Linked DNA regions of Homo sapiens: region 2 is linked to region 1. Evidence: fine-mapped expression QTL. A gene starts in region 1. The other region holds a variant in brackets. All regions are shown on one strand. Distances are from middle to middle.

Region 1 (5,392 bases):
AACCCTCCTTAAACTTTGTTCCTTTCTAAGCTTTTGATGTCTTTGCAACAGACAGATGTGTGTTTAATACAAGTGATGCAAGACGTCAATACTTTCAAAAACACTTCTAAGCTCCCTCAATATTTTAACATCTATGTGCCAGGCAGTAAATCCTTAGGAATACTTGTTTCACATTATCCCATTCATCCTCACAGGTGTTAATTTAAGCCAATGCACTTAATGAAGCATGGCAAAGGCAACTGTTTAAAATAATGAGATGTTATTTTCAGGACATGTAAGTTTATTACACCATTAATAAAAATTAGAGTCTGTAGATTTTGGAGAGATAAATGAGGCTAATAGAAAGGTAAGATTTTTTGCGGAGGAGGTAAAGGCAAGTTTTTTGTTGTTATTTAAATACTAACCAGTGATATCAAACTAACCTTATAAAATACATACACTATCTCCCCACCTTTAAAGCACCCCTGGGGTGTAATGAGATAACTAAAGGATTGAAAAAAGAGATCTCTAAAAAAAGGACTAGAGGACAGCTATCTACTTTTGATATGAGTCTCCACCAGTAAACATTTCCCAACCATGCTGTTTTCAAAGCTCAAGTCATAACGCCCAAACTTTGATTTCTTCCCCTCAAAATACTTCTAAAACCTGAACACTCAGAAAAATGTTTACATAAAATAATGTATTCATATAACTGCAACGTATGAACTTAAAGTTCTAAGAAAGATGCAATGCCCAGTACTTACTGATTAAATGTTGATGAAGACAGGGCAATAGCATTTTGGCTCCACCATTAGCTCAACTGCAACCAATTAAAGAGATTCACGCAGAATATGCAGGTGCTAAATCAGTCCCCAAAAGCATATTTTGGGGTGAGCCTATCAACTAAAATAGTAAGAAAAAAAATTAGCTTGTTTGGTGGCATACAGAAGCACCTAGTATCGAGAGTTAAAATGAGATAAAAATCACCACAATCATGAAATGTATTTTTCACACCTGTAACATAATGGTTTTTTCCAGATACAATCAGGCTGGTTTTTGTGCTTTCTGTATGGAAGAAAAAAATTATTCTCACACCAAATTGGATTCTCTCAGCATGACAATTTTTGTAACGTTAAGGAATGTAGCTTTAACCTTTTTTCTCTAAATCTTAACAGAATTTCTAAATCCTAACCAAATACATGAAATCCTGTCTCTAAGTACACCATAAGAGCAAAAAGATAAGATTTTGGTGTATCGCCATAGTCATTCTTTAAATGTTAAAGTGATGGCAAATTATTCAAGTTATTAAAAGACAGTAATCCTCAGAAAGCTATTTGAAATATAATTTCAAAACCAGCTTAAAGAAATTTGAAGTAATGAAAAAACATGAAAACCCTTAACTGAAAAAAACAGATTTTGCAATACTTTCAACATAGTGGAAGAATATTTTCGTATTTGGAGCTTAAAAGCTACAAATGGTTTTCTCCCACGAATTAAAAATACAGGTATAATTTAAAATTTTCCAAATGGCGTCACTTTAAGCTTAAGACATGTCATATTAAAAAATAATTCCACAGAATATGCATTTTGTAGGACGTCCCAACATGCAGCCTCGACTGTCAGAAAGGAGGCACACATAATCAAATCCATGTACATTAAAAAGAGGTACACAAAGATGAATGAGTTGCGAAAAAAGCAACTACACAAATTCAATGAGAGAAAGGGAGGAGTCCTGACTCATACTGTATACTATTATCCTTTTCCTTATCTACACCGAGTATTTTATATAAAGACATATGCTCTATCATTCAATTGCACAAAAGGGCACTTGGCCACTTCTACTCTCAAATCTGCTCTGGAGATTGTGGTAAAACATTCTACATACCTCCCTGAAGAAATTCTCAAAGCGAAGTACATTTTAGAGAACAAAGTGGACTTAACAATTTTAAGAACTTTCTCGGAACTCGGCACAATAGGGTAATTACAACTTTACAGCCGCATTTTCCGTGCTCCACCAGGACTGTCCCCGCGCCCCAGCCCACATCCCTTCTTTAAAGAGAGTCAGACTGAGAGAGACGGTTCGGCCAGCTATCCCGATTCTCTATGTCTGGGCCGTGAATCGCCGAGCAAGGCTGAACCCCCGCAAAATTACAGAAGAATCTAAAGCGCAAACGAGGGAAAAGAACAAAAAAGCAAAGGGGGGGAAGTTGGGTCGAGACCCACCCCCACTCTCTCGACCCCACCCAAGCCTACCTCTCCTACGCTGGACCATAAAACAAAACCGAAAACGTAACAAAAATAAAAACTAAAAATAGAACACCACGAGAAAACAAGTAGGGCTTCCTTACTGTCTCCACTCCTTCTGGCCCAGTTCTCTACTCAACCTCCCGGCCCACCCCACCCCCCAGGGGTCCCGGCGCCATTTAGCTCCTCCGAAGCCGCCGCCATTTTCCGCCCCCGCCGGATCGCCGCTGTGCCTCGGCAGCCGCTCGCTTCCCTACTCTGCAGCCTGAGCCACGGGCACCGCCCGGCCCTAAGAGGGAGGCCCTGGCCGGAACGTGCGGGGACGGCAGCTGCAACGTCAGGAAGGCCAGGCTCCGACCCCGCCCGCAGTGCCCCGGCGCCGACAGCTTGCGCCAGCCGGCGGGAGCTAGCGGGCAGCAAGGGGGCCGGACAGGCTCCACTGGGCGGAGCGGCCCTGGCGGCGGTTGGAACCTGAAGGTTCCATCGCACTTACTTCCTGTTTTGGGTCCGGGCACTTTGGAAGAACCAGGATGGAAGCTCCAAAAAATACCAGGATGGAGGAAGCAGCCACGGGCGAGAGTGGCTGCAGCTGGAGTGAGCGAGCGCGACGAGCCACCGGAAACGGAGCTGCGGCCGCGCCCCGCCCCCAGCTCCCCGCACGCTGCCCCTCCCGCTCGTCTGTCCCGCTGGCGGCCCAGCGTGCTGGCTGTACGCGTCACTTCCGGCTGTGTCGGCGCGCGAAAAAAGGTCCTGGGTTGGAATGTTTGTACTGGTCTGTGGCGGTGGTTGTCGGCTGTCCTGCCAGGAAAACTCGGCACTGACTATCCCACTGCTGATGCTGTAAAAGAGGTCCTTCTGCTATGACGCAACTGTGGTTCCTCTGGTTCTGGGGACACTTAGGCCTCGCGTGCCGATTTTCATAGTTCCCTGTGGCTCCGAGCCGAGGGAGCCGCGGTGTGGAACGGAGGGAACCAGTGATCTCAGTGCTGAAGAAAACAGGGAGTGTGTGTCTTCATACTTGATTTGCCTTACCGCAGGGGCATAATATGAGATATCTGGGCGTGTTAAGTCGTTCTTGATGAAATGTGTCCTCTGTGAATGTAGTCTCACTGTTAGACTAGGAAGATGCTGTTTTGCTGTGCCCAGTTCCTCTTAAAAGTACAGATGCTCCTTGGGTTGCAGCCGTATAAACCCATCCTAAATAGAAAACGCGTTTTAATACCCTTATAAACGAAAAGGATAAATAAGCCTTTGGGTTCTGTAATGTGAGCCAGCATTCTTTGAGTGCGTATGTGACAGGTAAATGTTTTACGTATATTAAACTCATTTAATGTTCATAAGTTCTAAGTGCATCGCTACAATTATTACAAATGAATCCCATTTTACACAGGAACCAAAGAGAAGTGAAGGAATGTGTCCAAGGGCTCCCAAGTTGGCGGTGGAATTAGAATTGAAGCCTCAGCTCCAAAGCCTGTGTTCTGAACTACCCGGTTGCAGTTCACAAAATACACTTTGGCAGTACTTTCATAACGAAAACAAATGATTACAACCAGTTTACAAATGCTTTGCTTTACTGGAGGATCGACATGTTTGACTAATTTTCAAAAATAAATCTCAGAAGCAGCATTTTCTTGTGTTGATAACTTTATTACTAATTTGTGGCACTCTGCATTCTGTTGGAGTTAAGCCGTGTATCATTCCATTTTTTAATAAGTACATAATAATGTTTATGTAAGCAAAACTATGAGGCAGAATAGTATCGTGGTATGGACTCAGGCAGTCAGACCTGAGTGTGAATCTTGGCTCCATTTCTTAGTAGTGGATATGGCACTTCACCTCTTTTAGCTTTGTTTACTTTAGGAGTAATAAGATGTACCTTCCAGAATATTGTAGACAGCGTAGTTTGCATGGAATCTGACGTGTATTAAGCATTAAAAATGGTAACTAATAAACCTTAAAGCCAGGAAAGCAATACAACTACTCAAAGAGCAGTTCTAATAAAATAATAATTACATATGCAAAATTGTTGACATTAACATTGATAAGGTGGTTCCTAATGAGCCATATTTTTCATAAGACATAACCATATAGGATTATTTTTGCTAAGGCACAAAATAGTGATATATAAATTATAGTCGGGCTATCCATTCTCCTCTGCTAAATTTTAGGTCAGCCTGCACGCTGCTAACTCCCCGCAAAAAGTCAAGTGCATCCTCATAACTAAATTCTCCCTTTCTGGTTGAGTTTCTTTTATAACTACCTTTTCCCAAGTCAATTGGTATTTATTTGGGGATGACAAATGTATTTTAATATTAGCTTAATGCATAATTTAAAAAAATATAATAACGTCTCTATCCCTTTAGCTTGAATAATCAATGTAAAGACTATCCATAACACAACTTGATTCCTAGAGCAATTTTCTGCAGTTATACTTCTATGTTATCCGTACCTCATTATTTAGTCAATGTGTACCTAGGGAATGGATGAGGTTTTAAATATTATCCAAGGATTTACCTATTTAGGAATTAAATGTTTTGTAGAAAAATCATTAGAAGTATTTCTATCCTAAACAATAATTATTAAAGTATTTATAGCTTAGCTATGGTATTTACTGCATTTGCTAGTTAAAATTGACTTTGTTGGACTCCAGGTGTCTATAACACTTTTGTGAACCTCATCAGTGATTGATGATGAAATTGCCTTTTATGACAGGTTGATATATTAATATAAAGTATTTCAAATACTGAGAAGCAGGTTCTGTTGTTTCATGATCATCTTTTGCTAATTCAGAAAAAAAAAAGATGTTTATAAGCTTTTGTTCAAAGTAAAAGAAAATTACAATTACTGAGTAATTTTCTTTCTACACAGGCTCTGAGTCCTGTTAATATAGCTGATGGGTATACACTGTAGGGCCTTCCAGCTGATGGAGATTGCTGTGCTAATGGAGGAATGAATAAACTGTCCCAGTTATGCCCACACACCAGGCTTTACCAGGTGGTCTCCTGTCTCAGATTCTTCCTGTAGGCTTCCCTCTGGGCCTTATGACACTCCATCTTACAATCCTTTTCCCGCCTTGCATTTTGCCTATGTGTCTCATCTCTGCAATCCTTTTAATACCTCAGCCTGGTGACAACCTCTCTATATCCACTTCACTTTTTTCTTCTTTTGT
Region 2 (5,392 bases), 230 kb before region 1:
TGTACAAAAAAAAAAAGTATAGCTCATGTTGGAAATAAAATGAAGCAATTTTTTTAAAGCTCTAAAAATTCAAAAGAAAAAGAAAAAAGTACAGATGGGATAACTAGAAAATAAAGAGCAAGATGGTAGACTTAAACACAAATTTACTGATAATTATACTGAATTTAATTATCTAAATAACATATTTAAAGACAGATATTCTCAGACTAGATAAAAAAGCAAAACTGAGAGGAGTCATGTTACCATAATGGCAGAGTAGAAGCAATCTGGCTTCACTCTTCCCCACAGAAAACCAAAACAACTATCTAGTACCAATTATCCTCAGGAGTATCCCAGAAACCAAAATGGAGGCTGTGATGATCCCAGGGGCCAGAGAGAAGCAAAAAACTTCAAGCAGAAGGTAAGAGAAACAGACCACTCTATCCACAACACCCCGCCCTCAAGCTGCCAGGCCGCATGTGGAAAAACTCCCATGGACTCACAATACTACACTGAAAGAAGTGAGATCAAGGCAGACAGACACCCTTATCTCCATGCTGGGTTCCTTCACAGAAAAATCATTCCTGCTTCAACCTAAGGGAAGCATCTTTGCCTATAGGGTAAAAAAATCCTAAAGGCAGCCAGAGACAATGGGTAGAGATGGGGTTAGCAATCCCCAATGAACAAAACTCAGTGATCACTCTTCATCTCAGCCAAAAAAGACACCAAATCAAAGAGGTTGTTCAGCAGTGTTACGGTGTAGGAAGCACGCTCCATGAGTCCATGAGGCTATAAAGCCCTAGCCAGCCTTCCCACACAGCCAGGGTATCCTTTCGTTGCAGACACTCCAAGTCCACAACAGTAAGCAATCTGAACTTTTACAAGAGCTCCAAAAGTCAATTTTTTGACAAGATAAACAATATTGACAAATCTGTAGGTAGAATAAGGAAAAAGGAAAAGACTCAAATAAATAAATTCAGAGATGAAAGGAGATATGGTAACCAATACCACAGAAATATAAAGGATCATTAGACACTATTATGAGTAACTATATGCCAACAAATTGGAAAACCTAGAAGGAATGGATAAATTCCTGGACACATACAACCTGAGATTGAAACATAAAGACATAGAAAACCCAAACAGACCAATAACAAGTAATATGATTGAAGCAATAAAAAGTCTCCCATTAAGCAAAAGCTTAGGACCTGATGGCTTCACTGCTGAATTCTAATAAACCTTTAAAAAAAGAACTAATACCAATTATACTCAAACTATTCCAAAAAATTGAAGAGGGCAGAATATTTTCAATCTCATTCTATGAAGACAGCATTATCCTAATACCAAAACCAGAAAAGGACACAACTAAAGAAGTAAACTACAGAGCAGTATCCCAGATGAACACAGATGCAGAAATCCTCAACAAAATACTAGCAAACTGAACTCAACAGCACATTAAAAAGATCACTCACCATGATTAAGTGGGATTCAGATGGTTCAACATATGCAAATTAATAAGCATGATATATCACATCAACAGAATAAAGGACAAAAACCCTATAATCATTTCAATAGATGCTGAAAAGCATTTGATAAAATTAAACATACCTTCATGATAAAAAAAATTTTCAACAAACTCAGTAAAGAAGAAATATACATCAAAACAATAAAAGCCACATATGACAAATCCAGAGCTAACATCATACTGAACATGGAAAAATTGCAAGACTTTCCTCTAAGATCTAGAACATGACAAAGATGCCTACTTTCACCACTTTTATGCAACATAGTATTGGAAGTCCTAGCCAAAGCAATTAGAAAAGAGAATGAAATAAAGAGCACTCAAATTGCAAAGGAAAAAGTCAAATTGTCCTGTCTGCAGATGACATGATCTAATACTTAAGACACCAACAAACAGCCATTAGAGTGATAAACAAATTCAGTAAAGTTGCAAGATATAAAATCAACATATTAAAATCAGTAGCATTTCTATATGCAAAAAGCAAACAATCTGAAAAACAAATCAAGAAAGCAATCCCATTTACAATAGCTACAAAGAATATAAAATACCTAGGAATCAACTGAACCAAAAAAGTAAAAAAATCAATACAAGGAAGACTATAAGACACTGATGAAAGTGAGAGAACACCAAAAAATGGAAAGACAACCTATGTTCATTAATTAGAAGAATTAATATTGTTAAAATGTCCATCCTACCCAAAGCAATCTACATATTCAATGCAATTCCTATCAAAATACCAACAATATTCTTCACAAAAATAGGAAAAAAAAATCCAAAAATTCATATGGAACCACAAAAGACCCAGAATAGCCAATGCAATACCAGGGGAAAAAAAAAAAAGCTTGAGGTATCACATTACCAAACTTCAAAATATACCGCCAAACTATAGTAACCAAAACAGCATGTTACTGGCATAAAAACAGACATACAGACCAATGGAACAGAATAGAGAACCCAGAAATAAATCCGTGTATTTACAGGCATCTCCTTTTCAGCAAAGGAAAGGACAGGCTCTTCAATAAATGGCTCCATGAAAACTGGATATCCATATGCAGAAGAATGAAACTGGACCACTATCTCTTACCGTGTACAAAATTCAAATCAAAATGGATTAAAGGCTTAAATATAAGACCTGAAACTATAAAACTACTAAAAGAAAACATTGAGGATGCTCTGTAAGACACTGAACTGGGCAAATATTTCTTGAGTAATACCCTACAAGTATGGAAGCCAAAGCAGAAATGGACGAATGGGATCATATGAAGTTAAAAAGCTTCTGCACTGCAGAGGAAACAATCAGCAGCCCACAGAATGGGAGAAAATATCTGCAAACTATCCATCTCCCAAGAAATTAATAATCAGAATATATAAGGAACTTAAAAAACTCAATAGCAACACACAAATTTATCTGATCTAAAATGGACAAATAATCTTTTTTGTTGTTGTTAGACAGTGTCTTGCTCTGTCGCCCAGGCTGGAGTGCAGTGGCACGATCTCAGCTCACTGCAACCTCTGCCTCCCAGGTTCAAGGGATTCTCGTGCCTCAGCCTCCTGAGTAGGTAGAGGTACAGATATGTGCCCCTACATCAGGCTAATTTTTGTATTTTTAGTAGAGACAGGGTTTCGCTATGTTGGCCAGGCTGGTCTCAAACTCCTGACCTCAGGTGATCTGCCCACCTCGGCCTCC[C/T]AAATTGCTGGGACTACAGGTGTGAGCCATGCGCCCAGTGACAAATGATCTTAATAGACATTTCTCAAAAGAAGACATACAAACAGCCAACAAGTATATGAAAAATGCTCAACATCACTAATCATCGGGAAATGCAAATTAAAACTACAATGAGACATCACCTCACCCTAGTTAAAAATCACTTTTATCAAAAAGATAGGCAATAACAGATGCTAGCAAAGATGTGGAGAAAAGGGAACCCTCATACATTGTTGGTGGAAATGTAAATTAGTACAGCCACTATGGCGAACAGTCTGAAAGTGCCTCACAAAACTAAAAAAAAAAGAACTACCCTACAATCTGATGATCCCACTGCTAGGTATATATCCAAGAGAAAGGAAATCAATATATCAAAGAGATAGCCACACTCCAATGTTTATTGCAGCACTATTCACAATAGTCAAGATATAGAATCAACCTAAGTGTCCAGCAGATGTATGGATAAAGAAAATGTGGGCCGGGCGTGGTGGCTCACACCTCTAATCCCAGCACTTTGGGAGGCCAAGGCACGCAGATCACCTGAGCTCAGGAGTTAGAGACCAGCCTGGCCAACACGACGAAACCCCATCTCTACTAAAACTATAAAAATTAGCCAGGCATGGTGGCAGGCACCTGTAATCCCAGCTACTCAGGAGGCTGAGGCAGGGAGAATTGCTTGAACCCAGGAGGTAGAGGTTGCAGGGAACCAAGACCATGCCACTGCACTCCAACCTGGGCGACAGAGCAAGACTCTGACTCAAAAAAAAAAAAAAAAGTGATATACATACACAATGGAATATTACTCAGCCAAAATAAAAAAACAAAGAATGAAATCCCTTCATTTGCAGCAACATGGGTAAGGCTGGATAACTTTTTGTTAAGTGAAATAATCCAGAAATAGAAAGACAAATACTGCAGGTTCTCACCTATATATGGGAGTTAAAAAAAATTGATCTCGTGGAAGTAGACAGTAAAATGGTGGTTAACAGAGATTGGGATGAGTAGGGGGGAGAGGAGATTGAAGAGAAGTTAGCTAATGGGTATAATGGTACAGTTAGATGGAATAACTTCTAGTGTTCGATAGCACAGTAGGTTGACTATAGTTAACAATAATTTGTTGTATATTTCAAAATACCAAGAAGAGAAGACTTGGAACATTCCCCACACGAAGACGTAATAAATGGTTGAGGCAGTGGACATCCCAATTACCGTGATTTGACCATTACACATTTTATGCATGTATCAAAAAAATCACATGTACCTGATAAATATGTTCAATTATAACTTATTTATCAATGAAAAAGCAACATTGAGGGACTTCTACTTCTTCTTAGGATGTATTAAGTCACAAAATTAATGTCGCTCCTATTCTAAAAATGAGTAAAGGCTGGATAATTTATAAAATCACAACTTTTCATGAACCCATCAGAAAACTGACGTTGCAAGAAAACCAAGCGATCTGAATGCCAAAGATGACCAATCCTCTTTCAGATGAGAATAGACACGTCAAAAGTTATCAAGTGGATACTGTGATAAAGTAACAAGGAAAAACTGTGAAACCACCACAGATCAGAAATCTAATACTCTATTGATGGAAGTACAAATAGGACACAGTACCAGCTGGGAAAAAAGTGAGCAAAAATACTGAGGAGTTAGGATGAAATAGCTATAAAAAAAGATATACCCTTGGACTTCAAGACTGTGAAAATAGAAACTGAATGGTCCTTACTGTCCATGAAGTCTGTAATAGGCCAGCTGAAGTGCAAGCTGAATAAACGTATCCGGGTGAAGCATCTTGTTCTTGGTTAGCTTTTTGCCAAAAGATGTAAAGGCATAAGCCGCAATCTGTAGATCAGATGCCTAACAAGAAGAATTAAATGAGAACGGTGAAAAATCACCTAAGGAGAATACACCAAAGAGAAGCAAATTATCACCTGCATTAAAGTAATCACCAGACATAAAGAATTAAAGGTGTTAAAGGCATAATTTTAAAATGTTTTGTGCAGACATGCTTGGATGACAGCCAAATTTTTACATATGGTTGTTAAAAGAAAAAATCATTATTATTTAAGAGAAAAGTGAAAAATATACCTCCCTGAGATACTGGGCTTTAGCTTGGTTGATGTCATTTAAAACTTTCTCATCCACAATGAAAATGAGCTCTTCTGGAAGTGGTATATCTCGTA

What was found. PIP is the estimated chance that this variant, and not a neighbour inherited with it, causes the effect. A credible set is the group of variants that fine-mapping cannot tell apart.
Region 2: its variant is the best candidate, but not a certain one, in a credible set for the expression of DMTF1 in whole blood (INTERVAL, PIP 0.65).

The regions. Positions count from the first base shown.
Region 1 is chr7:87,149,880-87,155,271 of GRCh38, reverse strand. DMTF1 (cyclin D binding myb like transcription factor 1) reads right to left here and starts at 2,819. Exons shown (of 18, transcript NM_001142327.2): 1 at 2,717-2,819. It overlaps DMTF1-AS1 (DMTF1 antisense RNA 1), which reads left to right and starts at 2,779. Exons shown (of 2, transcript NR_136253.1): 1 at 2,779-2,970; 2 at 3,614-3,849. RefSeq lists enhancers at 2,624-3,185, 3,031-3,270, 3,186-3,749.
Region 2 is chr7:87,382,087-87,387,478 of GRCh38, reverse strand. CROT (carnitine O-octanoyltransferase) reads right to left here. Exons shown (of 18, transcript NM_021151.4): 12 at 5,298-5,392; 13 at 4,936-5,066. It also overlaps a transcript of ABCB4 not described here. Among named protein-coding and RNA genes, the nearest start is that of CROT, 39 kb to the right of the region's middle. The variant C/T (reference allele first, on the strand shown) is at 3,189.